Homo sapiens: one gene and its partners. The protein of the gene in region 4 interacts with the protein of the main gene of each other region in a pairwise test. Each region holds a gene or a part of one and is shown on either strand. Other genes may lie near its edges. The genes, in order: OTX1, MYH7B, TRIM69 and ETFDH.

What was found.
Region 1: the proteins of ETFDH (region 4) and OTX1 interact in binary tests that used the Homo sapiens proteins (3 or more experiments, as listed by UniProt).
Region 2: the proteins of ETFDH (region 4) and MYH7B interact in binary tests that used the Homo sapiens proteins (3 or more experiments, as listed by UniProt).
Region 3: the proteins of ETFDH (region 4) and TRIM69 interact in binary tests that used the Homo sapiens proteins (3 or more experiments, as listed by UniProt).

What each region holds. Positions count from the first base shown.
Region 1 is NC_000002.12:63,053,808-63,058,342, reverse strand, and holds the end of OTX1 (homeobox protein OTX1), read right to left. Parts: intron 4,412-4,535; exon of another isoform or gene 4,297-4,411; coding exon 4,145-4,296; intron 2,843-4,144; coding exon 2,027-2,842; 3' UTR 512-2,026; downstream 1-511. UniProt on the Homo sapiens protein: Probably plays a role in the development of the brain and the sense organs. Can bind to the BCD target sequence (BTS): 5'-TCTAATCCC-3'.
Region 2 is NC_000020.11:34,993,835-35,000,867, reverse strand, and holds part of MYH7B (myosin-7B), read right to left. Parts: intron 6,723-7,033; coding exon 6,467-6,722; intron 5,533-6,466; coding exon 5,290-5,532; intron 4,523-5,289; coding exon 4,346-4,522; intron 4,256-4,345; coding exon 4,110-4,255; intron 3,786-4,109; coding exon 3,695-3,785; intron 3,618-3,694; coding exon 3,228-3,617; intron 2,574-3,227; coding exon 2,447-2,573; intron 2,358-2,446; coding exon 2,239-2,357; intron 2,150-2,238; coding exon 1,953-2,149; intron 1,813-1,952; coding exon 1,463-1,812; intron 1,298-1,462; coding exon 1,173-1,297; intron 1,078-1,172; coding exon 962-1,077; intron 576-961; coding exon 179-575; intron 101-178; coding exon 1-100.
Region 3 is NC_000015.10:44,760,506-44,767,538, forward strand, and holds part of TRIM69 (E3 ubiquitin-protein ligase TRIM69), read left to right. Parts: intron 1-6,725; coding exon 6,726-7,033.
Region 4 is NC_000004.12:158,675,263-158,682,295, forward strand, and holds part of ETFDH (electron transfer flavoprotein-ubiquinone oxidoreductase, mitochondrial isoform 1 precursor), read left to right. Parts: intron 1-5,204; coding exon 5,205-5,345; intron 5,346-6,845; exon of another isoform or gene 6,846-6,932; coding exon 6,933-7,033. UniProt on the Homo sapiens protein: Accepts electrons from ETF and reduces ubiquinone.

The DNA of each region.
Region 1 (4,535 bases), on a different chromosome or scaffold from region 4:
GCAAGGAAGGTTGTCTGCTGCCAACATGCAGGACACGGATCAGTTTTTTGTCGTTTTGCTTTCTTTTCCTTTTTGGCTCAGCTCTGAGAGCATTACAGAGCTATCCTTTCCCGCCTCCCGACCCTCTTCCCCTCCCCCTCTTCTTTCTGGTGCAGGCAATTAGGGTGAAGAAATCAGTGCCAGGCTCCTGCCTCTGAAGAGAAAGGAATTGCTTCGGGAATTGAGTCCTGACACCTGTCTCTGTCCTGGATGGCGAGGGGGGATGCGGGGTCAAAACGCCTGGGGGAAGAGGCCAGGCTGACGCGGAGGGGCGTGGTGGGGGTGGGGGGAGACACTCCCTAAGCGAAAGTTTCTGGGGACTTCTCTTGCCAAGTCCTCCCGCCTCATCCTTTGGCCTCCAGCTTCACGCAGGTCATTAACACGCGGGTTATTAACACGGAGTTTCCCTCGCTTTTAGCCCCCCGAGACCAGGACCTCGGGCTGGAATCAGAAGAGCAACACTGACAAGCCGTTCATTAATTTGCATTTATTTTCGGGAAGTAATGTAGATAAAGAGGAGGAGGGGGACTGCCTTACATTTCAACAAGTAATTTGTGATCTTCACATCAGACAAATCAAATTTACAAATTACTTTCCCACCTACTGGACGAAGCGGCCAAAGCCAAAATTGATACACAGGCGCGCGGGCTCTCCGCAGATTTCGGAGAACGAAGGTGCACTAAAAACTCACTAGACAAAACAAGGGTGTTGAAAGAGAGAAGCCGACAGAGGAGTTGGAACTGGGTTTGGGGCCTGGGTTTGTTTGTTTTTCCCTAATGCTGTACTTTTACGGATTTTGTTTTGTTTTGTTGTTTTGTTCCCTGGTTTTGGTTTTCTTGTTTTAGGTTTGTAAACTGGAACTGCGACCCTGTGCTTAGACCGGGTGAGGGGGTCAGCCCTGCGCCCCTGCCCAACCCCCACCTCTGTACCCTGACTTGTCTGTTTCCTCCACACTTCGGATATCCCGCGCCCAGCTTCCTGAAACCAAGCGGTTCTCTTCAATAAATACACAGAGGGAGAAGATGTGAAGAGGGCAGGGCAGCTTTGCAACAACTGAAAAAGAAAAAGCGCCATTGATTGAGGAAGAGCAGAAGGGGGACGGACAGAGGGAAAATATTTTTTGCTTTTGTTTTTTATATATGTGTATATATATATGTATATATATATATATGTGCTGTATATATCTTAAAGTTCTGTTTCCTGGGTGCTAAGACAAGATATGTTCAGTTCAACCAACCAACAGCAACTAAAAAGTTTAAGTGGTCCCTGGAACGGACCTGACTATGTACAGCGTTCCCGCCGAGGCGGAAGCTTGAACCAGTCCAGCGCAGGGCGGGGCGGGATGCGGCTCTGTGCGCGGAAGGCTGGGGACGCGCTCCTCCGGCGGGCCTAGCCCTGGCGCGCCCCAGCGCACTCCGCTGGGGCGGAAGAAACGCCGGGAGGCTCTGGCCGGCAGGCGTGGAGCAAAATCGAGGGCAGCTGAAGGGGCAGCAGTCTGCGCGGGAGGAACTCTTAGTGGTTTTGATTTGGAGTAGTGTGCGGGTGCTCCAATGGGCAGAAACACGCCAGTTAGTGACTCCAGTGTCCAGAAAGAATAAATTAAAGTGTTGGGCTCAAACAGCGGATCAGAGCGCAGAGCCTCCGAAGGCTGCAAGTGCTTAATAGCTGTCCAGAAAGACTGGAAGGGGAGGCTTAAGAGTTTAGTAGGGGCTGAAGGGGGGAAATAATACATCTCTCCTGTATAGAATGTGTAGGCCAAGCCGAAGCACCGGTCCCCCCATCCAAGGGGCAGGGTGGGTTTGCACATCCCCCCAAGCAAGTGGCACAAAAATGGGGGCGGCAGTGCAGGCAATGGACATCTTTTTGGGGGGTGAAAATTCAGTTTTGGAGAAGACGAGGCAAAGGCGGGCGGTGCAGCAGCAGCAACAGGATCGGGACCACGGAGGGCGCAGGTAGTTGCGTTTCTTCTCCTCTTTCATTCCTGGGCTCACAAGACCTGGAACCGCCATGAGGCTTGGTCCTTATAGTCCAGACAGTCGGGGGAGTTGAAGTTGAGTTTCCAGGCGGAGGAAGCAGCAGCGGCGCCAGGCTCCTTGTAATCCAAGCAGTCGGCAGAGTTGAAGGCAAGCCCAGAGCCACCGTAGCCTTGGTGGTGGTGGTGGTGATGGTGGTGGTGGTGGCCTGAGGACTGGCTCAACGGGTGGTGCGCATGTGGGTGGTGATGATGGTGGCCCGCCATGGAGGAGGGTGCCATGGGGCTGAGCTGGTGCGGGTGGTGATGTGAGTGCATGGGCGCTAGGTATGAGCTGCAGTCCACGCCGCCAAAGTAGGAAGAGGAGGGCGTAGGGTAGCCTTGGCCGTAGCTGCCGCCCTGGCCGTAGGACATGGGATAAGAGGCTGCTGCGGTGGCGGCGCCTGCAGCTACGGAGCGCTGCATACACGAGGTGTTGCTAGGCGCGGCCAATGGCTCCGGCACCGACACGGACGCGGGCGCTGAGCCTGGCGAGATGGAGGCCGGGCTCCAGATAGATGAGGCAGCTGGTGTACTCAGCGACGACGCGGCCGCCACCGGGTTCCCACCTAGTCCCGCAGCCGCTGCAGCCGCTGGGTTGGCGGAAGAGCTGGACGCCGAGCTAGAGGACGAGGCAGAGCTGGACACAGCTGGCGGCGTGAATTGGCCACTGCTTTCGGAGCCCGAGCTCTCCCGCACTGGAGAGGACTTCTTCTTGGCTGGGCGGCTCTTGGTTCCGCTCCCGCTCTGCTGCTGCTGGCGGCATTTGGCGCGGCGGTTCTTGAACCAGACCTGCAGTGGGCCGGATGGGGGAGAGTGGGTCAAAGGGAGCTAGGGGAGCTTGTTGCTCCACCGCCCCGCGGACCCAACTCCCGGTCCAGAATATCGCAATCCTTTCTCACCGAGGCCTCCGCCCCTTCCTGTCTCTGGCCTGGCCAGACCCTGCCCCCTACCTCGGTTCCCAGCTCCTCCACCCTCCCCCATCCTTCTGCTCAAAGCCCCTCCTCAGCTGGCTCCAGAGCAGGGATGCGCACCTCCCCACCCCTACCGCAACTCTGCCCTAGGGCGGAATATTTCAGTCTGCCCAGTCAGAAGTTCTGCCATCTCTAAATTGCTGCTGTTGGCTGCTTCCGTGTATGTTTGGAGGCCCCGTGTGTGTTTGGAGGCCCAGTTTTCTACTAACAGAGCTCAGGCAACAGTGGAGAGGTACAGAGCCGAAGAGTGTGGAACAGTCACCAAGTCTAGGGCCTGAGCCGTTTCACTGAGCAGCTCCTGGAGGCCAGAACTGGGCAGGGCGAGTATTTGGGTGGGGGTAGGAGCAAGGCCAGAGGCTAAACAGAGGTAGTACTTGAGGGACTCGGGAAGGAAGCCTGGGTGGGATTTCGTTGGCCCTTTGGCTCCAGGTGGGGAACCAAATGGAATGGTTACTCTTCTAGGAGAGCCCCAGCACATGGCACTGCATTCCTGGTCCCCCTTCTCAAGCTTTCGAGTAAAGGAGGCGAGACTCTTGAGGAGAGTTCTGAGTTAGAATCCGAACGTTATCATCGGAACCCTTTCATCTCAAAAACAGAAATAAGAAAGCCGGCAGCAGGATTTTGCACTTAGCATCCTCTGTAAGCAGAGGAAGCGTCTAATGAGACCCAGGCAGAGCACCAGGCTCCAGCCAATCTCCGCTCTTCCATTTCTAGGATTCCCGGGGTGGAAGACAAGGGCAGAGGCAGAATTCAGGCCTCTAAGGGAAACTGCCAAGTCCTGGGGCAGGCGAAGAAGCAGGGGCAAGTGTCAGGCCCGCAGGGCGCTTTACATTCGGGAGCTTCCCTAGTCCTCCGGCAATTCTAAAAAGTACTTTCGATACCGACACCGAAGGCGCCCTAGGGCTAAAGGCGGAATCCAGGGCTCTAAGCCATTTCCTTTAACTTTTGCCCCCTTTCCTGGCTGGGGCCCAGCGCTAGGGGGAGTCCGAGAGCGGCTGCCCAGTCTGTAAGCCCACCCCCACAGGATGGTCTCCTCAAGAACTACTCAAGAGCCTTCCTAGACCTTCCCCGAGCAGCCTCAGCTCCCCTACCCAGACCCTGGAGCCCGGGGAGTGCGCACCTGGACTCTAGACTCCGGCAGGTTGATCTTGAGCGCCACCTCCTCCCGCATGAAGATGTCAGGGTAGCGAGTCTTGGCGAAGAGCGCCTCGAGCACGTCCAGCTGTGAACGCGTGAAGGTGGTGCGCTCCCGCCGCTGCTTCCGCGGAGTGGCTGCGGGGACACGCGGGGGCGCCGCGGGTCATTGGTGGCCACGTGGACCCGCGATAGAGGACTCGGGCAGGCCCCTGGCAGGCCCAGATCTCGGCCTTCGCAAAAGAAAGCCGAACTGGGAATAAAAGAAACTCCCTCGGGCGGCCGAGCCTGAGAGGCCACAGGTGGGAGAAAGTGCAGATGTGCGACTAGAAGCCAGTGTCTCCAAGATTCGAGGGCTGCCCCTCTCTATGCCTCTC
Region 2 (7,033 bases), on a different chromosome or scaffold from region 4:
CCTCAGCCTCCCGCCTCTCCTGTGCAGCCTCCTCCACCTCCCCGCTCAGCTGGGCCAAGTCCGCCTCCAGCTTCTTCTTCTGGTTTAGGAGGCCTGTGTTCTGAGGGGAAGAGGAGTCTCAGAGCCAGCCAGCCAGCAGGCCTGCACCTGCTCTGTCCCCAGGGACTCCTGTCCCCACCTGCGAATGCAGAAGGTTGAGGCGCTCGGTGGCCTCCAAAAGCTCCTGCTCTGCCAGTCGCCGGCTGCGCTCGCCCTGCTCCAGGGCAGCCCGCAGCTCCTCCAGCTCCGCAGCCAGCAGCGAGGCCCGGCGCTCCAGAGCCTGCGCCTGCTCGTGGAGCTCAGCTGCCAGCCGCTGCTCCTCGTCCCGCCCTGCCTGCTCCTCCTTGAGCTGTGCCTGCATCAGCCGCGTGGCAGCCTGGGCCTCTGTGGCCTGACGGGTGGCATGGCCCAGCTGCAGCTCCAGGTCGTTGAGGTCACCCTCCATCTTCTTCTTGAGCCGCAGCGCCTCATTGCGGGCCCGTGTCTCTGCATCCAGGGAGGCCTGCAGGGACTCCACAGCTCGCTGGTGGTTGCGCCTATGGGAGGAGGGTGGCATGAAAGGGGGTCTCGTAAGGGCATACCTGTCCTTACAAATGCCCAAGGACCGTTGGAAACGAACCCATTTTGAGAACAAATGAGTCACCCCTCCCCGATTTAAAGTCTCTTGTGACTGCCTGTGGCCCATCAGAGCAAGTTCATGGACAAGAGTGAGGCCCAGGCAGACAGAGGTGGACTGACTGGCTCCACCCCCACTGTGTGACTTTGGGCAAGTCCTTTAGCATCTCCGAGGTTCACAGCTAGAATGGAGACAGCAACCCGGACCTCAAAGTCCCATGGGAGGGACAGACTAGAGAGCAGAGTACACACTGCTTCCCTCCCCTTCTGCTCTCGGGAGGTGGGGACGGGAGAAGGATGGACACACCTCAGGTTAGCGCACTCCTCGTCTTTCTCTGCCAGCTTCCGGTCCACTTCTGCTTTGACCTGGGAGAGCTCCAGCTGGATCCGCAGCGTCTTGGTCTCCTCCAGCTCCAGGGCCCCCTGTGGATACAGAGCAGGCAGGGTAGGGTGGGGGGGGGGGATGGCCAGTGGAGCAGCAGGTCAGTGTCCACCCACCCCTGCAGCCAGCCCCTGACCTCTGCCTCCTCCAGTGCAGCCTGGATCTCACTCTTCTCGCCTTCCAGCGCCTTCTTGGTTTTCTCCAGTTCCTGGATGCTCTTCCCACTGAGACTCACCTGGTCTGTGAGGTCGCTGATCTCCTCTGCAGTGGACAGGGTGCTGAGAGGCCACCCCCATGGCTTGTACTCCCACCCAGGTCACTCCACTCACCCCTGATTCCAGGGTGGCCCCACCAGGGCACCCCCATAACTCAAAGTTGCTCCGACCCCAGGGCAGCACCCTGGCCCTGGCGTGTGGCAGGTCCTACCCTGCAGGTTCTTGTTCTCCCGCTTGAGCGTCTCCAGGGCTTCAAGTGCCTCCTCGTGGCCGTGCCGCAGCCGGAAGAGCTCGGTGCCCAGGCCACGGGACTCCCTCTGTGCCGCCTCCAGCTCCCGCTGCATCTCCTCCTCCTGCCGCCGCCGTTCCTCCAGTGCCCGTTCCAAGTGCCGCTGCTTCTTGTCCAGCGCAGCAGCTGCTGAGGTCGCCCGCTCCAGCTCCAGGGTTACATCCTCTGACTCTGTCTGTAGCCGCAGCTTGGCCTTCTCCAACGATGAGCACTTGGCGTTGGCAGCCTCCACGCCCTCCTCTGCCTCCTGCAGCCGCAGTGCCAGCTTTTTTCTAGGCCATGGAACCAGACAAGGTGTGGACCATGGAAGGAGGGAGAACAGCCCCAGCAGCTCCCTTCACCCACCCTCAGCGGGGCTCAGGCACAGGCATAAAGCTCTGCATGGCAGTGGCCTGGCCAGCAAAGCACTCACTTGGCCTCCTCCAGCTCCTCGGTCCTCTGGATGGCATCTGCTTCGTACTTGCTCCTCCACTGGGCCACCTCGGCATTGGCCTTGGACAGCAGCCGCTGCAGCTCAGCCTGGGCCTCAGCCTCCTCCTCGTGTTGCTCCCGCAGGAGGTCACAGTCGTGCCGCAGAGCCTGCACGGCGTGGGCCAGGGCACTCTTGGCCTGCAGGGACACCAGTGACCTCAGCGTTAGTGCAGCCCAGTGGCTCTGGTGCCCACCTGCCCACTCCATGGTCACCGGTGCCAGCCCACCTTGCTTTCCTCCTCTAGCTGGCGCCGCAACTCTTCCAGGCTTTGGGCGGCCAGGGCCTTTCCACGGCTCAGCTGACTGATCAGACACTCCTTCTCCTCTAGCAGGCGACTCAGCTCCCCTGCAGGCAAAGAGGCGAGCGGACAGGTCAGGCTGGTGAGGGCTGCACCAAAGCCCTGCCTGGTGTGGCCAGCTGAGCCCCAGCCTCACCGCTTTCCGTCTGTAGTCGCCCACGCTGCGTGCTTGCGTCCGCCAGCTGCCGCTGCAGCTCCTCCACCTTGATCTTGGCCTCGCTTAGCTGATCCTCATAGGTCCGGCACAGCTTCTCTGCACTGGCCTAGGATCCCAGGTTGGGAGTCAGGGGTCAGGAGTTAGATGTCAGAACAAGTTTGTGCATCAGATGGCAGGATCTGGGATCAGAGACTGGTAAGCTAGATGTGGGCCCAGGAATCAAAGGGAGAGCAGAGCCCCAAGTTCAAAGTCAGGGAAAGAGATTCTACTGCTGGGCTTAACAGGTGTCAGAACTGACAGGGCTGGGCCAGTCCCAGGGCAGTGGGTCAGGGTGAGAGTTGGGATGGTAGCTGCGGAGTCACCTGGGGACAATGGTCAGAGGTCAGCTGTCAGGATTATGTGGTAGAAAGGTCAGGGGTTAAGGCTAGGGTGCTGGGGTTCAGGACAGGAAGAGAGGACAGGTATTAAGTCAGAGTTCAGGAGTCAAGGGCTAGGGTCACAACTACTGCTGGTTCAAGGGTCTGAGGCTGGAAGTAGATGCTGGATCAGAAATGACCTGGAGTCAGGGAACAGGGCTTGGGAGTCACGGCTTAAGGTCAGGACTGGTAGGAGGCTGAGAAATGAGGGTTGTGTACCAGGTGAAGAGGTCAGGGCTCAGGATAAGGTACTGGGTGGAGGCTGGTGTGGGAACAGTATTGGCTGCTGGGATCGGGATTGGTTTAAAGTCAGGGTGGGTATGGGGTGAGGAAGGCACGGACACCTTGGCGCGGGTCAGAGTCTCCACGTTGGCAGCCAGGTCGTCCACCTCCATGCGCAGCTCACTCTTCTCCTTCTCCAGCTTCTGCCGCACCCGCTGCAGGCTGTCCACCTGCTCCCCCAGCTCCGCCGCGCCCTCCGCCTGCTTGCGCCGCAGTGCCGCCACTGTGGCCTCGTGCCGCAGCGCCGCCTCCTCCAGCTCCCGCCGCAGCCTCCCCAGCTCCGCCTCCCGCTTGCGGCAGCCCTCGCGCTGCCCCGCGGATGCGCCGCCTGCCTCCTCCAGCCGCTCGCTCAGCTCCTCCAGCTCCCGCGCCGCCTCTGCACGCTGCTTCTCCACGCGGGCCCGGGCTGCCCGCTCTGCCTCCAGCTCCTCTTCCAGCTCCTCCGCCCGAGCCTGGGGTGGGCACGTGGGGCAGCTGTCACCTCTGTGGGCCTCTGACCCCAGGCCTCACCCACCCGATCCCCACGCACCTGCAGCTCCTTGATCTTCTTCTGCATCTGGGCCCCCAAGAGCTGCTCGTCTTCCACCCGCAGGCTCAGCTGGCTCAGCTCGGAGTCCTTCCTGGGAGCCACAGAGTGGGTGGCCAGCACAGGCCTTAACTCCCACCCACCCGCCTGGGACCCCATAACGCCCCCCAGTCCCCTTCAGGCCCTGAGGGACCTCACCCCATGCACCTGCTGCACTGGGCCCTGAGGCCTCAGCCCTGGACCCTGGCTAGGGCCCTCAGTACAGGGAGGGCAAGACACTACCCCTGCACCCCAGTGCCCCATCTGTCAACCCCCACCCTTAACCTCTGCAATGCCGCAGGAACCACAAGAATCCAGAAGGGAACAAGGGCCAGGTGCAGGCTCAGAAGGCCCCCACCTGCTGCCCCACCACACCTACTTCTTGAGCTTCTCCTCCAGCTGCTGCTTGTCTTGAGCAGCATCAGCCACCGACTCCTGCGTCAGCTTCAGGTCACCCTCCAGCTTGCGCTTGGCCCGCTCCGTGTCCATGCGCAGCTTCTTCTCCTGCTCCAGGGAGCATTCCAGCTGCAGAGCAGGCACAGCAGGGGTCAGCCATGGCCCAAGCCAGCCGGCACCCCGGCCCCGCCACCCAGTCTCGGGGTGGCCCTGACTCACGTCCTCCACCTGTTGCTCCAGCCGGAGCTTGGCCTTGGTCAGCGCGCTCACACGGTCCTCCTCGGCCTGCAGGTCACCCAGGGCCTGTTGGTGGGCCTCCTGCAACGCCTTCTTCTCCTTGGTCAGCCGGGCCACTGACTCGTCCAGCGCAGCCATCTCTTCCGTCAGGTTCTTCACCTGTGCCAGGGCCAGGGCCAGAATGGGGACGCCCTTCCCCGCACTCTGAGCGGCCACCACACCACACCAGGTCAGAGCAAGTGCCCCTTCCAGCTATGGGACTCAGGCAAGTCACTTGACTCCGAGCCTCCACCGCTTCTGCCTGAGGGAAGGACCCTCCTCATGGGGTTGTAATGAGGATTCACGAGTGGATGCACCCGCAGTGCTCAGCACCACACCTGGCCTGGTGAGAAATCCACAGATGCCAGCCATGTGCAGTATTAGCATGTGCTCAGGGCAGCTGCCTCCTAGTCCCGGCTTCCTCAGTGAGCACCTGTGAGAACCTAAGCTGCCTACCCCTGCCTCACTTTCCCTCCTGTGTAATGGAGTCCCTCCTCCAGCACTGGGAACCACAGGGGCCATCACGAGGGCTCAAGGGCAGAAGTCACCTGCGGGATGCCGAGCTGGGGACATGGAGTTCCTGCCCTCAAGGGGCTTGCACTCCGGGATGGATGAGGATTGCCAGCATGTGCTAAACACCTACCGTGTGCAAGGCCTAGGAGCGTGTGCTCAGTAAAGGCCAATTACACACATCACCACCTACCCTAATGGGGTAAGTGCTGCTAACCCCACTTGACAGATAAAGAAACTGAGGCCCAGGAAAGGCAGTGACATGCCCAGGGCCAGAAAGCAGAGGCTTAGCAGAGCCGGGGTGGGACCTGCAGCCACCTGGCCCCAAAGCTGGCCCCTGGCTCAGGGCCCTTCCCCACAGCTGGCCCGGCCCACACCTTGTTCTCAGTGGCTTGCTTCTCCTTCTCAGCTTTGGCCAGTGTCAGCTCCAGGTCATCAATGTCCTTCTTGAGCTCCGTGCACTCGTCCTCCAGCTTGCGCCGGCGGGCGGCCAGGTCAGCGTTCACCTCCTCCTCATCCTCCAGCCGCTCACTCAGCTCCTTCACCTTCCCCTCCAGCTGCACCTTGGACTTGATCAGCAAGTGGCAGCGCTCCTCGGCATCTGCCAGGTTGTCCTGCTCCTGGAGGGCACACGGAACGGGGCCAGGTTGGGGGAGGGCCAGGTAAACCAGCAGAGAGACACCAGGCCAGGCCCTGGAGAGGAAACTGCCTCTGTAGCAAAGTTTGGCTGTGCTCTGAGAACTCAGGAATGTCTTGACTCGCTCTTGGGCATGGAAGGGCAATAGCGCAGAGGGACACACCAGAGCATTAAGAGGGGAAAGTTAGAAGTGCGGGGCGGCCCAGAGTGAGGCCCAAACAAGGGTTCTGAGAGGGAAGCCCGCTGCTCACTGCCCCGCTGTTGGGCTGAGGCCTTCCGAGGGGCAGGGTGAGCAGCAGCAGCCTCTGCACAGCCACGGACGGGCTCCTGGAGGCAGTCCCTGGAAGGGCTCAGGTATCCTTACCCCCCATTTCCTTACTGTCCAGCTGCGTCACAGTCTCCTGCACTAGCAGGTGAGTTTTGTGACCACAGGGCCATCTCTGTCTTCCCACCAACGTTCCTCCTGCACTAGCCTGAGCCTGGCACACAATTGATACACAAAGCCATGTGCCGAAGGCAGGAAAGCTTGCTCTGTGGACCTGGGGAGATTCCAGACCTTTGATCTGTGCTCTCTGGCTATCACCCTGTTACCTGCCACCTGGGTTCCCATGGCCCTTAACCAGAGAAGAGAGCATGGGTCTGTTTGGTTTCAGGGATTGCAGGGAGGGGAGAGCTGGGGAGCTGGGGTTCCTCTGCTTTAGCGGGAGGCCAAGGTGGCACGAGGGGAGAGTGCCAGGAAACGTGCCAGACGAGGCCTTGGGGTGGTGAGGCTGGGACATGGAGGCCTCATCTCATGGCATCTTTGGAACAGAGAGACATAAGGCCTGAGCCCCATGGGTCTCGCTGTACTATCCCTCAGAGCAGCCAGGGGTACTCGGGGCTGGGGACGCCCGGTCACAAGGGGAACCCTGACTCACAGCCTGCAGCTGCAGGGCCAGGTCATTCTTCTCCTGGGTGATGCTGACGTGCGTCTCCTCCAGTTCCTGGCGCTTGGCCTCGGCCGCAGCCAGCGCCCCTCGCAACCCCCGCAGCTCTGCCCGCAGGGCCGCCAGCTCCTCCTCAGCCTGCGCCGAGCGCAGCAGCGGCTTCATCTTGAAAAAGAGCTTCATCCATGACCAGTTCTTGACGGCATTGAAGGCACGGATGTTCCACTGGATGGTGAACAGCGCATCCCTAGGGAGGGGCAGCCAAGCTGTGAAGGTGGCTCAGTGCTGCCCGTCACAAATGGTGACACTCAGCACAGTTCACTTGTTTTGCCTTCCCAGCAGCCTCATGGAGTAGCTCCTAATAGCTCTGCTTTATAGGTGAGGGTGAGGGGAGGCCCACAGTCCCACAGGCCTGCCTCCAGTGAAGGGGCTCATGAGCCCCCCATGTCCTGGTGGCCTCTGCAATTCCCGGAAGACACCAGGGCTGTTAAGCCACGGGGCTCTGGAGTCAGCGGCCTGGGCTGACGTGCCAGCTAGCTCTGGATCTCTGACACGGGC
Region 3 (7,033 bases), on a different chromosome or scaffold from region 4:
CATCATTATTATTATTGTTTATGGTTATTGATTTAATGAGAAATCACAAATATATCCCTGATTTAATGAAAAATCGCAAATTTTTCCAGGTAATTGACATTGAAGAAAAATCAACTATACTGAGATATAGTTAACATAGAGTAAAATTATCCAATTTTAAGGGCACAATTTGATGAGTTCTGATGTATATATACACTTAGGTAAACCTCTCCATAATCAAAATATAGAAGATTTTTATCACTCCAAAAAGTTCCTACATGCCCCTTTGAAATCAATCTCTTCCTTCTACTCTCAGCCTCTAACATTCACTGACATGTTTTATTTCACTTTAAATGTGTCTTTTCTAAATTTTTGTCTAAGTGATAGCATACATTATGTAGTGTTTTGTGTCTTCTGGTTTTTTTCACTTAGCATAATTTTTTTTTTTTTTGAGATGGAGTCTCGCTCTGTTGCCCAGGCTGGAGTGCAGTGGTGCCATCTCTGCTCACTGCAAGCTCTGCCTCCAGGGTTCATGCCATTCTCCTGCCTCAGCCTCCCGAGTAGCTGGGACTACAGGCGCCTGCCACCATGCCCGGCTAATTTTTTTATATTTTCAGTAGAGACGGGGTTTCACCCTGTTAGCCAGGATGGTCTCGATCTCCTGACCTCGTGATCTGCCCGCCTCAGCCTCCCAAAGTGCTGGGATTACAGGTATGAGCCACTGCGCCAGGCCGCATAATGCTTTTTGAGCACTTATGTTGTTCCATGTATCAATAATCATGATTATTTATTCAGTTTACTTATTCATTTCCCAGTTGATGGACATGGGGTAGTCCATGGTAGTTTTATCCATCCTGCAATTAGTGAAAATCCCAGTTTCTCTATATCCTTTCCAAAACTTGATATTGTCAATCTTTTTAATTTAAACCATTTTATTGAATGTATAGTAGTATCTTATTGTGGTTTTAATTTGTATATCTCTTGTTTTGGTGGGAGGGTGGGACAGAGTCTCACTCTGATGTCCAGGCTAGAGTACAGTGGTGCATCTCAACTCACTGCAACCTCTGCCTCCGAAGCTCAAGTGATTCTTGCGCCTCAGACTCCCCAGTAGCTGGAATTACAGGCGCGCACTGCCATGCCTAGCTAATTTTTGTATTTTTAGTAGAGATGAGGTTTTGCCATGTTGGCCAGGCTGATCTTGAACTCCTGGCCTTAAGTGATCCATCCACCTCAGCCTCCTAAAGTGTTGAAATTACAGGCATGAGCCGTGGTGCCCGGCTGCATATCCCTAATGAGCAATCCTGTTGAGCGTCCTTTCAGGTGCTTCCTTGCCATTCATATATTTTTTTGGTTGTGTTCAAACTTTTGTCTATATTTTTGTTAAATTGTTGTATTATTAAGTTGTAAAGGATACAAATCCTTTATCAGATATATGTTTCTTAAATATTTTTTCTCACTCCATGGCTTGCCTTTTCAATTTATTTTTATTTATTTATTTTTTTGAGATGGAGTCTCACTCTGTCACCCAGGCTGGAGTGTGGTGCAATCTCGGCTCACTGCAAGCTCCGCCTCCCAGGTTCACGCCATTCTCCTGCCTCAGCCTCCCAAATAGCTGGGACTACAGGTGCCCGCCACCACGCCCGGCTAATTTTTTTGCATTTTTAGTAGAGATGGGGTTTCACCATGTTAGCCAGGATGGTCTCGATCACCTGACCTCGTGATCTGCCCGCCTCGGCCTCCCAAAGTACTGGGATTACAGGCGTGAGCCACCGCACCTGGCCATCTCTGGCTAATTTTAGGACTTGCTTTTTGTCACTTGCTTCCATCAATTTGATTATACGTGGTCTTGGTGTGATTTTCTTTGTATTTATTCTGCTTGTGCGTCATTGAGCTGCTTGGATCTAAGGGTTTATAATTTTCATCAAATTTTGAATAATATCAGCTGGTATTTCTTCAAATACTTTTTTACCAACCCCTTTTCTCCTCTCCTTCTTGGAGTCTAATTTTACATATTTTAGACAACTTGATATTGTCAAGTTGTCTCATGTCATCGATATTCAGTACTTTTTTAGCCTTTTTTCACCTCACACTTTATTTTAAATGGTTTCTATTGTTATTCAAGTTCTCATCTTTTCTTCTGCATGGTCTAACCTTCTGTTAATATTGTTCAAGATATTTTCATTTTATATACATTTCATTTCTAGAAGTTTCATTTGGGTCTTTTTATATCTTTCTTATCTCTTCTCACCATGTTCATGCCTTCCTCTACATTCTTGAAAAAATGGAAGACATTTATCCATTTTAATATCCTTGTCTGCTAATTCTATCATCATTGTCATTTCTGGGCCTGATTTTATTGTTTGATTGTTCTCCTGAGAGTCATATTTTCCTGCTGCTTTGTATGGCTAGTAATCTTTTTCTTTTTAATGGGCTTTATTTTTTAGGACACTTTTAGATTTTTTAATTTTACAGAAAAACTGAGAAGATAGTATAGAGTTTTTTATATGCCCCATCCTCACTTTTCTCTATTATTAACATCTTAGATTTAACATTTTTAACAACTAATGAACCAAATTGATACATTATTAACTGAAATCCATAGTTCCTTTAGATTTTCTTAGTTTTTACCTAATGTCATTTTTCTGTTTTAGGTTTCCATCTAAGGTGCCACATTACACTAAGTTGTCATTTTCTTTAGGTGCCCCTTGGCTGTGACAGTTTCTCAGGCTTGCCTTATTTTTTATGACTTAGATAGTTTTGAGGAGTACTGGTCATATATTTTGTAAGGATGCTGCACTATTGCAATTTGTTTGATGTTTTCCTCATAAAATTTGGGTTATTAATTGGGAGAGGAAGACAGTAGCATTAAAGTGTCATTGTCATCACATCACATTAAGTGTTCATACCGTCAACATGATTTATGACTATTGATGTTGACTTTAATCACCTGGCTGAGGAAGTGTCTGTCAGGTTTCTCCACTGTACTCTTTTTCCCTCCTTCTATACTTGTATACTTTGGAAGGCAGTCATTGTGCACAGCCCACGCTTAAGGAGGGGATAGTTATGCTCCCTCTCCCTGAGGGTAGTGTATTAATGTAAATTATTTGAAATTTTGCTGCCCTGGAGATTTGTCTCTTCTGGTTGGTAATTTTTTACTGGATGCCAAATATGATGAATTTCATATTGTTTGTACTGATGAATTCATATTGGTGAATTTTGTATTTGCTGGATTTTGTTGTAGTTCTTTCAGTTCTATTGAATTTAACTCTGGCATGCAGTTAACATGGTATGACATCATTTTGTTCCTTCTGAGGCTTAAATAAAGCCTAGTTAGAGTGGCTCAAGAGCAGCCTTTAATCTAGGGCTAACTTAGCCCATTTTCTAAAGTAATATACCCTTCTGATTACCCTACCTGACGTTGACATATTACGACATTTTTCCATTCTGGTTGGCAAGATTGAAAATTATTCCCAGCCTTGTGTGAGCTCCAGAAATTGTTCAGTCTATTGATTTCTGGAGGTTCTTTCTCTGGCCTTGACGAGTTTCACTGCATGCATGTGCAGATTAGTACTCAGCCACAGCCTTGAGAGAATCCCTTTGTAGATGTTTGTAAGTTTCTGTGAAGTTCCCTCCTCTGTGTTACTCTGCTTAGCAAATTGTAGCTGCCTTGGTATGACAGAGTTTTTCTTCCTGTATACTTTGCTCTGTAAAGCCAAACTTCACTTCTAGCAATCTTTTAAAATGCAAACTGATTTTTAAATTTTTGGTATAATTTTACATCAAGAAAACCAAATGAGATTTATTTAATATATGACTATTTATTAATAATGTATTATTTATCCATATACTCTCCCTCTATACAGAGTGGGAAATTGTTTTTCTATGGTAACTGTGGTCAGACCTTTGTAAAATATATTCCATACTTTTTATTTCTAAGTCTTTGCTTATTTTGTAGATCCATATATTCTCCTTTTCTGCCAGCCTTATAAATTAGGCTGTTGCTTTAGAGCAGGAGCTGGCACTTTTCTGTAAAGGTTTGAAGAGTAAATATTTTAGGCCTTGCAGGTGTATGGTCTTTGTTGCTGCTACTTAACTCTGCTCTTGTAGTGAAAAAGAAGCTACAGACAACATATAAATGAATGGTCATAAATGTGCTCCAATAAAACTTTACTTACAAAGTAGGCAGTGGGTCAGATTTGACCTGTTGGTTGTAGTTTGCCTACTCTAGCTTAGGGAATTTTTCAATTTAAAATATTTGCATGAACAAATGCCCAAATAATGTGGAGTGAACCATATGGGGAAAAAGCATTCTAGGACAAGGGAAGAAATTATAAGGACCCTGAAGTAGGAATGATCTTCATTATGTTCAAGGAACTGCCAAAAGACAAGGGTGGATGAATCAAAGTAAATGAGGGAAAGTGTGGTAGGAGATGAAGTAGAGAGGTAGGTAAATCATGTGGCTCTTTTTTCCTCTATAAGGACTCTGGATTTTATCTCAGATGTGATGGTAAACATAAGAGTATGCTGAGCAGGGAAATGGCTTGATCTCATTCATGATATGTGTAGAATAGGGTGCAGATGGGCAAGAGAGGAAACAGAAGAGTAAAAAGCTATTGCAGTAGTTCCAGGCCAGTGATATTTCTGGAAGTAGTCAGAAGTGTTTGGGCACAAGATATATTTTGAAGGTGGAGCTGACAGAACTTTTCGTTATATGAACGTGGCATGAGAAGGAAAGAGAGGACAAAAAGCTGACTCATGGGAATCTTCAGAGCCAGTGCAGGCTGAACTAGCTAGAGATGTGTCAGAGGCTTAGCAAAGAGAGCAGAGTGGGATTCCAAAACGTTGCTAAAAAGTCTTTATGGTACCTCCAAAGAAAACCCAGTCCTCACATCAGAAAGATTAACAACCCAAAGTGAATGGGGATATGTAAGGGGATAGGGATTTAGCCTATATGGAAAAATTCAAGATTCTTAATTCTTCAAAGCCTCTTGTTGGAAAGAGAAGTCCCTGGGATAATGGAAAAGACTCAGGCTTTTCTGAGAAGATAGAGTTAGACTAGAGTTCATGACTAGCCTGGCCAACATGGTGAAATCCTGTCTCTACTAAAATTACAAAAAATATCAGCTGAGCGTGGTGGTGCATGCCTGTAATCCTAGCTACTCAGGAGGCTGAAGCAGGAGAATTGCTTGAACCCAGGAGGCGGAGGTTGCAGTGAGCCGAGGTTGTGCCACTGCACTCCAGCCTGGGGGACAGAGCAAGAATCTATCTCAAAAAAAACAAAACAAAACAAACAAACAAACAAAAAAAAAACAGAGAGAGAGAAACTAGATTGATTCTGCTTCCAAGGATAAATAAATCCAATAACAACAAATGCATGCATACATGTATCTGTGTCCATGGTGTGCACACACATAGCTATTAGGTCTCCTTTATCAAATTTCATGTCAAGGTCCAATGATCTCACATCTGGAATTTGTGTCATCCTCTTGCTGGTCAGCTTTCAACCTCTCTTCATTTAGTTTAGATATTCTTTTTTATACTGCTGCCCTTTGAATTGTCTAAACCAATGCTTGTAAAATTATCTGTGATGAAGGGCCAATCAAAAAAATCTCAATCTGTCATGGACTGATACTTTTGTAGAATACAATATAAATTACTTGAAAAAGTAAAATTAAAAAAAGCAAAGATTACAAAGTACAAGCCCAATTTTGTAATTATTAGATTCAACTGACATAAAATTACTGTCAATTTGCTATGAAAGTTTTTAAAAGTTTACTGTTAATTTCTATACTATCTTTGTCCGAGACTGTTAACCACATGGTATGTGGACCACATTATGAGTAGCAATGACATAAACCACTCTAGATCTCAAAAATCTCATTATCTGTTAAACCAAAATAAACCTCTCACTATTGTCCTCTAAACTCTGTACCAGTTAGTTCAGTCTTGCCTGTGTCTAACAGGCAAGCTCTTGTGTTCTCTTCCACACAGGGGACTGTTTTTAATCCATTTCTTTCTTTCCGTTTATTCAAAACATCCTAAATACATCTCATGTATATACAACTGAATACTTACCTTCCTCAGAAAGCTTTCCTAGAACATCCTTACCTAATTTTTACCCCTTTGGCATTTGTATTTTCTTATATTTATTAGTATAGGTTTATATTATTTGTATTGTTTCCTTTAGTAGAGCATAAATTACTTCTGAGTAAACCCTGATTTTTACCCTAAATATAAAAATGTCTAGAATATAGTAACATGGATACCCAAACAATAAAAAGCATGTAAGTGGCCAGGTGCGGTGGCTCATGCCTGTAATCTCAGCACTTTGAGAGGCCTAGGCAGGTGGGTTGCTTGGGGCCAGGAGTTCAAGGCCAGTCTGGCCAACATGGCGAAACCCTGTCTCTACTAAAAAATTACAAAGATTAGCCAGGTGTGGTGGCACACACCTGTAATCCCAGCTATTTGGGGGGCTGAGGCACGAGAATTGCTTGAACCCAGGAAGCGGAGGTTGCAGTGAGCCGAGATCGCACCACTGCACTCCAGCCCTGGGCAACCTTGTCTGCCTCAAAAAAAAAAAAAAAAAAAAAAAAAAAAAAAGCATATAAGTAATTGCTTGCCTGTCTAAGAGTCTATGTGTATGGGGAGATAAAGTACTATTGAATATGAAATACTATCTTTTACTGTGGGAATTTGTGTTTACCCCCCTTTCTCCCATGCTCTGCTTTCTTTTATTTTCTTACTAGGCCTGTCTCCACTAACTCTGGACCCTAAAACAGCTCACCCAAATCTGGTGCTCTCCAAAAGCCAAACCAGCGTCTGGCATGGTGACATTAAGAAGATAATGCCTGATGATCCTGAGAGGTTTGACTCAAGTGTGGCTGTACTGGGCTCAAGAGGCTTCACCTCTGGAAAGTGGTACTGGGAAGTAGAAGTAGCAAAGAAGACAAAATGGACAGTTGGAGTTGTCAGAGAATCCATCATTCGGAAGGGCAGCTGTCCTCTAACTCCTGAGCAAGGATTCTGGCTTTTAAGACTAAGGAACCAAACTGAT
Region 4 (7,033 bases):
GAATATTTCCTGTACATGGAAGCATATACTATGTTGTCTTTTTGTGACTGGCTTCTTTCACATAGCATATTGTTTTCAAAGTTCTATGTGGTAGCATATATCAGTATTCAATTTCTTCTTATTGCTAAATATTTCATTATTTGGATATATCACTTCTTACCATTTATTGATCAACATTTGGGTTGTTTCTACTTTTTGGCTGTTATAAATAATTCAGCTGTTGGTCAGGTGTGGTGGCTTACACCTGGAATCCCAGCGTTTTGGGAGGCTGAGACGGGCATATTGCTCGAGCCCAGGATTTCGAGATCAGCTTACACAACCCAGTGAGACTGCTTGTCTACAAAAAAATAGAAACAATTATCCGGGCATGGTGGCATGCACCTGTAGCCCTAGCTACTCAGGAGGCTGAGGTGGGAGGATCACTTAAGCCTGGAAAGTCAAGGCTTCAGTGAGCCATGATCACATCACTGCATTCCACCCTTGGTGACAGAGTGAGACCCTGTCTCAAAAAAAAAAAAAAAAAGTCAGCTAGGAACATTCATGTGCAAGTTTTTGTGTAGAAGTATGTTTTCATTATCTTAGGGATAGACTTAGGAATGGGTCACATGAAAACTCTATGTTTAACCTTTTGAGGAACTGCCAGACTGTTTTTCAAAGAGACTGCATCATTTTTGCATTCCCCCAGGAGTGTATGAAGGTTCCAATTTTTCCACATCCTTGCTAACTCTTGTTATTGAAACCGCCCAACAGGTTCTCCTTGCCCACTACCCAGACAGAGCCAATTTATCAAAACAGGAGAATTAGAATAGAGAAAGAGTTTAATTCACACAGAGGCGGCTGTACAGGAGACCATAGTTTTATTACTCAAATCAGTCTCCCCGAAAACTTGGAGACTGGGGATTTTAAGGATAATTTGATGAGTAGGGGGGTCAGAAAGTGGGGAGTGCCAATTGGTCAGGTCAGAGGTGAAATCACAGGGAGATGAGTTTGTCGTCTTGCACTGAGTCAGTTCCAGGGTGGGAGCCAAACGACCAGATGAGCTAGTTCATCGATCTGGGTGGTGCCAGCTGATCCATCAAGTGCAGGATCTGCAAAATATCTCAAGTAGTGATCCTAGATTTTACAATAGTGATGTTATCCCCAGGAGCAATTTGGGAAGGTTCAGAATCTTGCCACCTCCAGCTGCATGACTCTTAAACCATAATTTCTAATCTTGTAGCTAATTTGTTAGTCCTGCAAAGACAGTCTGGTCCCCAGGAAGGAAGGGGGTTTGTTCTGGGAAAGGGCTGTGATTGTCTTTGTTTCAAAATTAAACTATAAACTCCCAAAGTTAGTTCAGCCTACTCCCAGGAATGAACAAGGACTACTTGGAGGTTAGAAGCAAGATGGAGTCAGTTAGGTCAGATCTCTTTCACTGTAATAATTTTCTCAGTTATAATTTTTGCAAAGGTGGTTTTATTATTGCTTGACTTCTCGACTATAGCCATGCTAGTGGATGTAATAGTACCTCATGTGGCTTTGGTTTGCATTTCCCTGATGGCTAATGCTGCTGAGCATCTTTTCATGTACTTATTGGCCGTTTGTATATCATCTTTGAAGAAGTGTCTATCCAGATCCTTTGCCCACTTTTTAATTGGATTATTTGTCTTTTGTTACTAGATATAAGAGTTCTTTCTGTATTCTAAATATAAGTCCATTATCGGATATATGATTTGAAAATATTTTCTCCCATTCCACGGGCTATCTTTTCACTTTCTTGATGGTATCCTTTGATGCACAAAAGGTTTTAATTTTGATGAAGTGCAGTTTAACTGTATTTTTTGTCGTTGCTTGTGTTTTTGGTTGTTCTATCAAAGAAACCATTGCCTAAACCCAAGTGTTGATGAAAAAGCCAAACTCCATAAACTATTTGAAGAGATTAATTCTGAGCCAAATGTGAGGACCATGACCCACGATACAGCCTCAGGAGGTCCTGAGAACATGTATCCAAGGTGGCTGGGTTACAGCTTGATTTTATACATTTTAGGGAGAAAAGTTACAGGCAAAGACATTAATCAATACGTGTAAGGTTTACATTGGCTTGGCCTGGAAAGGCAGGACATCTCAAAAGTTCACGAATTTGTGTTGGGCCACATTTAAAGGCATCCTGGGCAACATGTGGCCCATAGGCTGCAGGTTGGACAAGCTTGCCTTAAAAGGTATCAGACTCTTAGTTAAATCTCTCCTAGATCAGGAAAAGGCCTAGAAAGGGAAGAGAATTCTCCACAGAATGTAAATGTTCCTCACAAGAGACAGCTTTGCAGGGCCAATCCAAAAATTATGTCCAAGAAATATATTTTGGGGTACAATACATTGATTTCCTCTAGGGCCTGTTGTCATGTGATGTTATACCAGAGTCAGGTTGGAGTTGGTATCTTATTGCTACAAAGAGTCTGTTCTGTCAGTCTTAGGATTTCAATATTAATGTTAATGCTGGTCAGTTATGTCTAAACTCCAAAAGGGAGAGGGTATAATGAGGCATGTCTGACCCTCTACTTACCATCATGGCATGAACTACTTTTTTGGGTTTCTTTGGAATCCCCCTGGCCAAGAAGAGAGTCCATTCAGTGGTTGGGGGCCTTAGAATTTTGTTTTTGGTTTACACAAGGTCACAAAGATTTACACTCATGTCTTCAAAGAGTTTTATGGTTTTAGCAAATATAGGGTTTGATCTTTCTTGAGTTAACTTTTTTTATCACCATAATCTTTTTAACTTTTTATCTTGAAATAGTTTTAGATTTACAGATAAGTTGCAAAAATAGTACTGAGAGTTCCCATATGCCCTTTGCGGAGCTTCATGTCTTATGTAACCATAGTATAATTATCAAAACTAAGAAATTAACATTGATGAAATAAAGTTAATTAAACTACAGATTTTATTCAGATCTTCTTTTTCTGTTCCAGGATCCAGTCCAGGGCACAAGGTTGCCTTTAGTTGGCAGGTCTCCATAGTCTACTTCAATTTGACAGTTCCTCTGTCTTTTCTTGTGTCCCAAGACCTTTACAGTTTTGATATGTACTGGTCGAGCATTTTGTAGAATGTCCCTCAATCTGAGTTTGTCTGATCATTTCTCATGATTAGACTGAGGTTAAAGATTTTTGGGGATAAATACCACAGAGATAAAGAACCCTTTTCACCACATCATATCAGGGATACATGGTATCAATATGTCTTATTGCTGGTAACATTAAACTTGATCACTTGCTTAAAGTGATATCTGCCATATTTCTCTACTGTAAAGTTAACATTTTTCACTTTCCATTCTCTACTTGTTAGAAGCTACTCAATAAGTTCATCCCACATCACTCAAAGGGAGGAGAGAATTGAAGAATTTATGGATATATCACCATCTTTTTTTTTTTTTTTTGAGACAAGGTGCTTGTTGCCCAGGTTGGAGTACAGTGACGTGGTCCTAGCTCACTGTAGCCTCGAATTACTGGGCTCTAGTGATCATCGTACCTCAGCCTCCTGAGTAGGTGGGACTGCAGGTGCATACCACCACACCTAGCTAATTTTTTTACTTTTTATTTTTTATTTCTGTAGAGAAGAGGTCTTGCTATATTGCCTAGGAGGATCTTGAACTCCTGGCCTCATGCAGTCCTCCCGCCTTAGCTGAGATTTACAGTCATGAGCCACTGTGCCCAGCCAACCATAGTCTTCTATACTTTGAACCTACCCTAATAAAATCTTCGATCAAATATAATTCATTTTGACCTAGGGAGCAGAGTATACTTTTTTTCTGAATGGCTTTCTAGCTATCTCTGCACCATTTAATGAGTAACCATTTCTTCTCCCTAATTTGAAATGGTATCTTTATTATATACCATATACCTATGTGTATTCTATTTCTGAACTCTTTATTCTTTTTTTAATTATTCTATCCCTTCTCCTATAACAGACTTCTAATGAATATAGCTTCAAATATAAGTTTCTATATCTGTCAAGAGTGGTTTCATGGGAGGATTCTTTGTCTTTTTTTAATGATAGGGACGATTATCAAGATGAACAGAGCCTGAGAAGGGAGTCAAAATTGAAGCTCAGAAGGGATGGTATCAGATGGAGGAATGTCTCTAGACAACGGGAGAGATAAGCCTTCTCATCCAGCTAGAAAGATTAACCCCAGTGGAGAAGAATATAGTCTGTTTCACTATATTCATTGAGTACAATCAACGGGAGAAAAGACATCTCTTCTGCTATAAACTGAGATAATGAACAAAGTATGGGCACAAATACAGATTATATTAGAAGTTACTGCCAAGGAGTTGAGAAAATTCCCATCTAATTGCTTCTGTCTTTATGAGGTTTGATGCTAGGGTACCTGCCCTGGATAAAGGAAAGAAGAGGTGGAGTTGAAGGTTTGAGGACAACAGAGAAGGTTCAGTGAACATTTTTGCAGATAAATCTTTGCATATTTCTGTTCATTTCCATAAAATACTTTTTGCTGACTCAAAAATGTATACATTTTTAAGGATATCAGAAGATACTGTGGCCAGGTGCAGTGGCTCACGCCTATGATCCCAGCAATTTTAGAGGCTGAGGCAGGCAGATCACTTGAGGCCAGGAGTTCGAGACCAGCCTGGCCAACATGGCAAAACCGCATCTCTACTAAAAAAAAAAAACAAAAATCCAAAAATTAGCTGGGTGTGGTGGTGCACACCTGTAGTCCCAGATACTCTGGAGGCTGAGGCGTGAGAATCGCTTGAAACCAGGAGGCAGAGGTTGTGGTGAGCTGAGATTGCACCACTGCACTGCAGCCTGGGTGACAGAGTGAGACTCTGTCTCAAAAAAAAAAAAAAAAAGAAGAAGAAAAAGAAGAAGATACTGCCTTAAGAACCTGACCATAAAACAAAGTTTGTGCTTAAAGCCATTGACCTAACACGGTGATTATACTACTCCATATTACTCTCAAAGTGTTCAGCTTTCATGACTAATCCATAGTTAAGCCTGACATGAGCTAAATTGAATAAATTTGCTTATTAGTTTTAAAATATTTAAGATTTGAAAACATTGCTTTATGAGAAAAAGCTATTCAAAGTGTTCACCTAGGAAAGATTATAGTATATTTCACTATACTCATTGAGTATAGTCATTCACTTATATTTTTTCAGTCTACTGAGGAAAACTAATTTTAAGGAAGATAATAATTTTCGTAATTTTTGTGCAGCATATCAGTGCTTTCATGCCTTAAAAATTAAGAAAAATTATCTACCTCTATGTGCTACAAGATGGTCTTCAACTTCTACTGTGCCTCGAATTACTACCCATTATACTATTTATCCCCGGGATAAGGACAAGAGATGGGAAGGTAAGTAATAATTTGTGTACAATTCCTGAGACTTTTCTGGATACTTTGTTTTCATTTTGTGGAGGAGAGTATTAATATTTTTCATAATTTAAAAACATCTAATAATATTTTGTGGCTTTACCAAGTCACATGCTGCATAATGACCCTTCAGTCAACAACACGACAATTATAATGGTAATCCCTTGACATTATAATGGAGCTGAAAATTCCTATCACCTAGTGACATCTTTTAGAACATAGCTTCCAGACCATCGTAGCTCAACACATTACTCAATTATTTGTGGTGAGTCTGATGTAAACAAACATACTCTACTGCCAGTTCTTTAAAAGTCTACCATATACAATTATGTACAGTACATGATACTTGATAATAAACGACTGTTACTGGTTTATGTATTTACTGTATTATACTTTTATCATTATTTTAGAGTGTACTCTTACTTAATTTTTTTAAAAAGTTAACTGTAAAACAGACACAGGCAGGTCCTTCAGGAGGTATTCTGGAAGAAGCTACCATTTGCATAGGAGATGACAGCTCCATGCGTGTTATTGTCTTTGATGACCTTCCAGTGGGAGAAAATGTGGAGGTGAAAGATATTGATGATCCTGACCCTGTGTAGGCCTAACTAATGTGTGTGTTTGTGTCTTAATTTTTAATAAAAGAGTTTAAAAGGTAAAAGGAAAAAAAATTTTAAAAAGAAAGAAACTTATAGAAAAATGATATAAAAACCATTTTTTGTACAGCTGTACAATGTGTTTGTGTTTTAGCTAAGTGTTATTACAAGAGAGTCAAAAAGTTTAAAACATTTAAAAGCTTATAAAATAAAAACATTACTGTAAGCTAAGTTTAATTTACTGACGAAAAAATTTTTTTATAAATTGCGTGTAACCTAAGCATACAGTGTTTATGAAGTCTATAGTAGTGTAATGTCCTTGTCCTTCACATTCTCACTGCTCACTCAGTCACTCACCAAGAACAGCTTCCAGTCCTGTAAGTTCTATTCATGGTAAGTACCCTGTACAGATATACCATTTTTAAATATTTTATACTGTATTTTTGCTGTACTTTTTCTGTGTTTAGATGTGTTTAGTTACATACATACTATTATAGTTGCCTACAGTGTTCAGTATAGTCAGTCACATGCTATATAGCTTTGTAGCCTAGGAGCAATAGCCTATACCCTGTTGCCTAGGTGTATCATAGGCTGTTCAATTAGTTTGTGTAAGTATACTCTATGATGTTTGCAAAAGGGCAAAATTGCCTAACGATGCATTTCTCAGAAAGCATTTCTGTCATTAAGTGACTTGTGACTGTATTTTACACAAGTAAATATTTGCTAAATGTATAATAATAAATCTCAAAGCCAAGAATTAGTTTATGGAAACTGAAATAAAGTATGTACTGGAACAGAACCTAAGAATATAATCATACTAATACAGTAATATGCTTAATATAATTATTGTGCAAAACACAGGGAGAATTTCCATAAATAATACTCTAAAGCACAGTGGATATTTTTTAACTGTCATGTGATTTATCATGTGATTATTGGGTTATATTAATCCCAGAATTTTTATTTCTCCCAGGAGTGAACATGGAAAGGTTTGCAGAAGAAGCAGATGTTGTAATAGTTGGTGCAGGCCCTGCAGGGCTCTCTGCAGCTGTTCGTCTAAAACAGTTGGCTGTG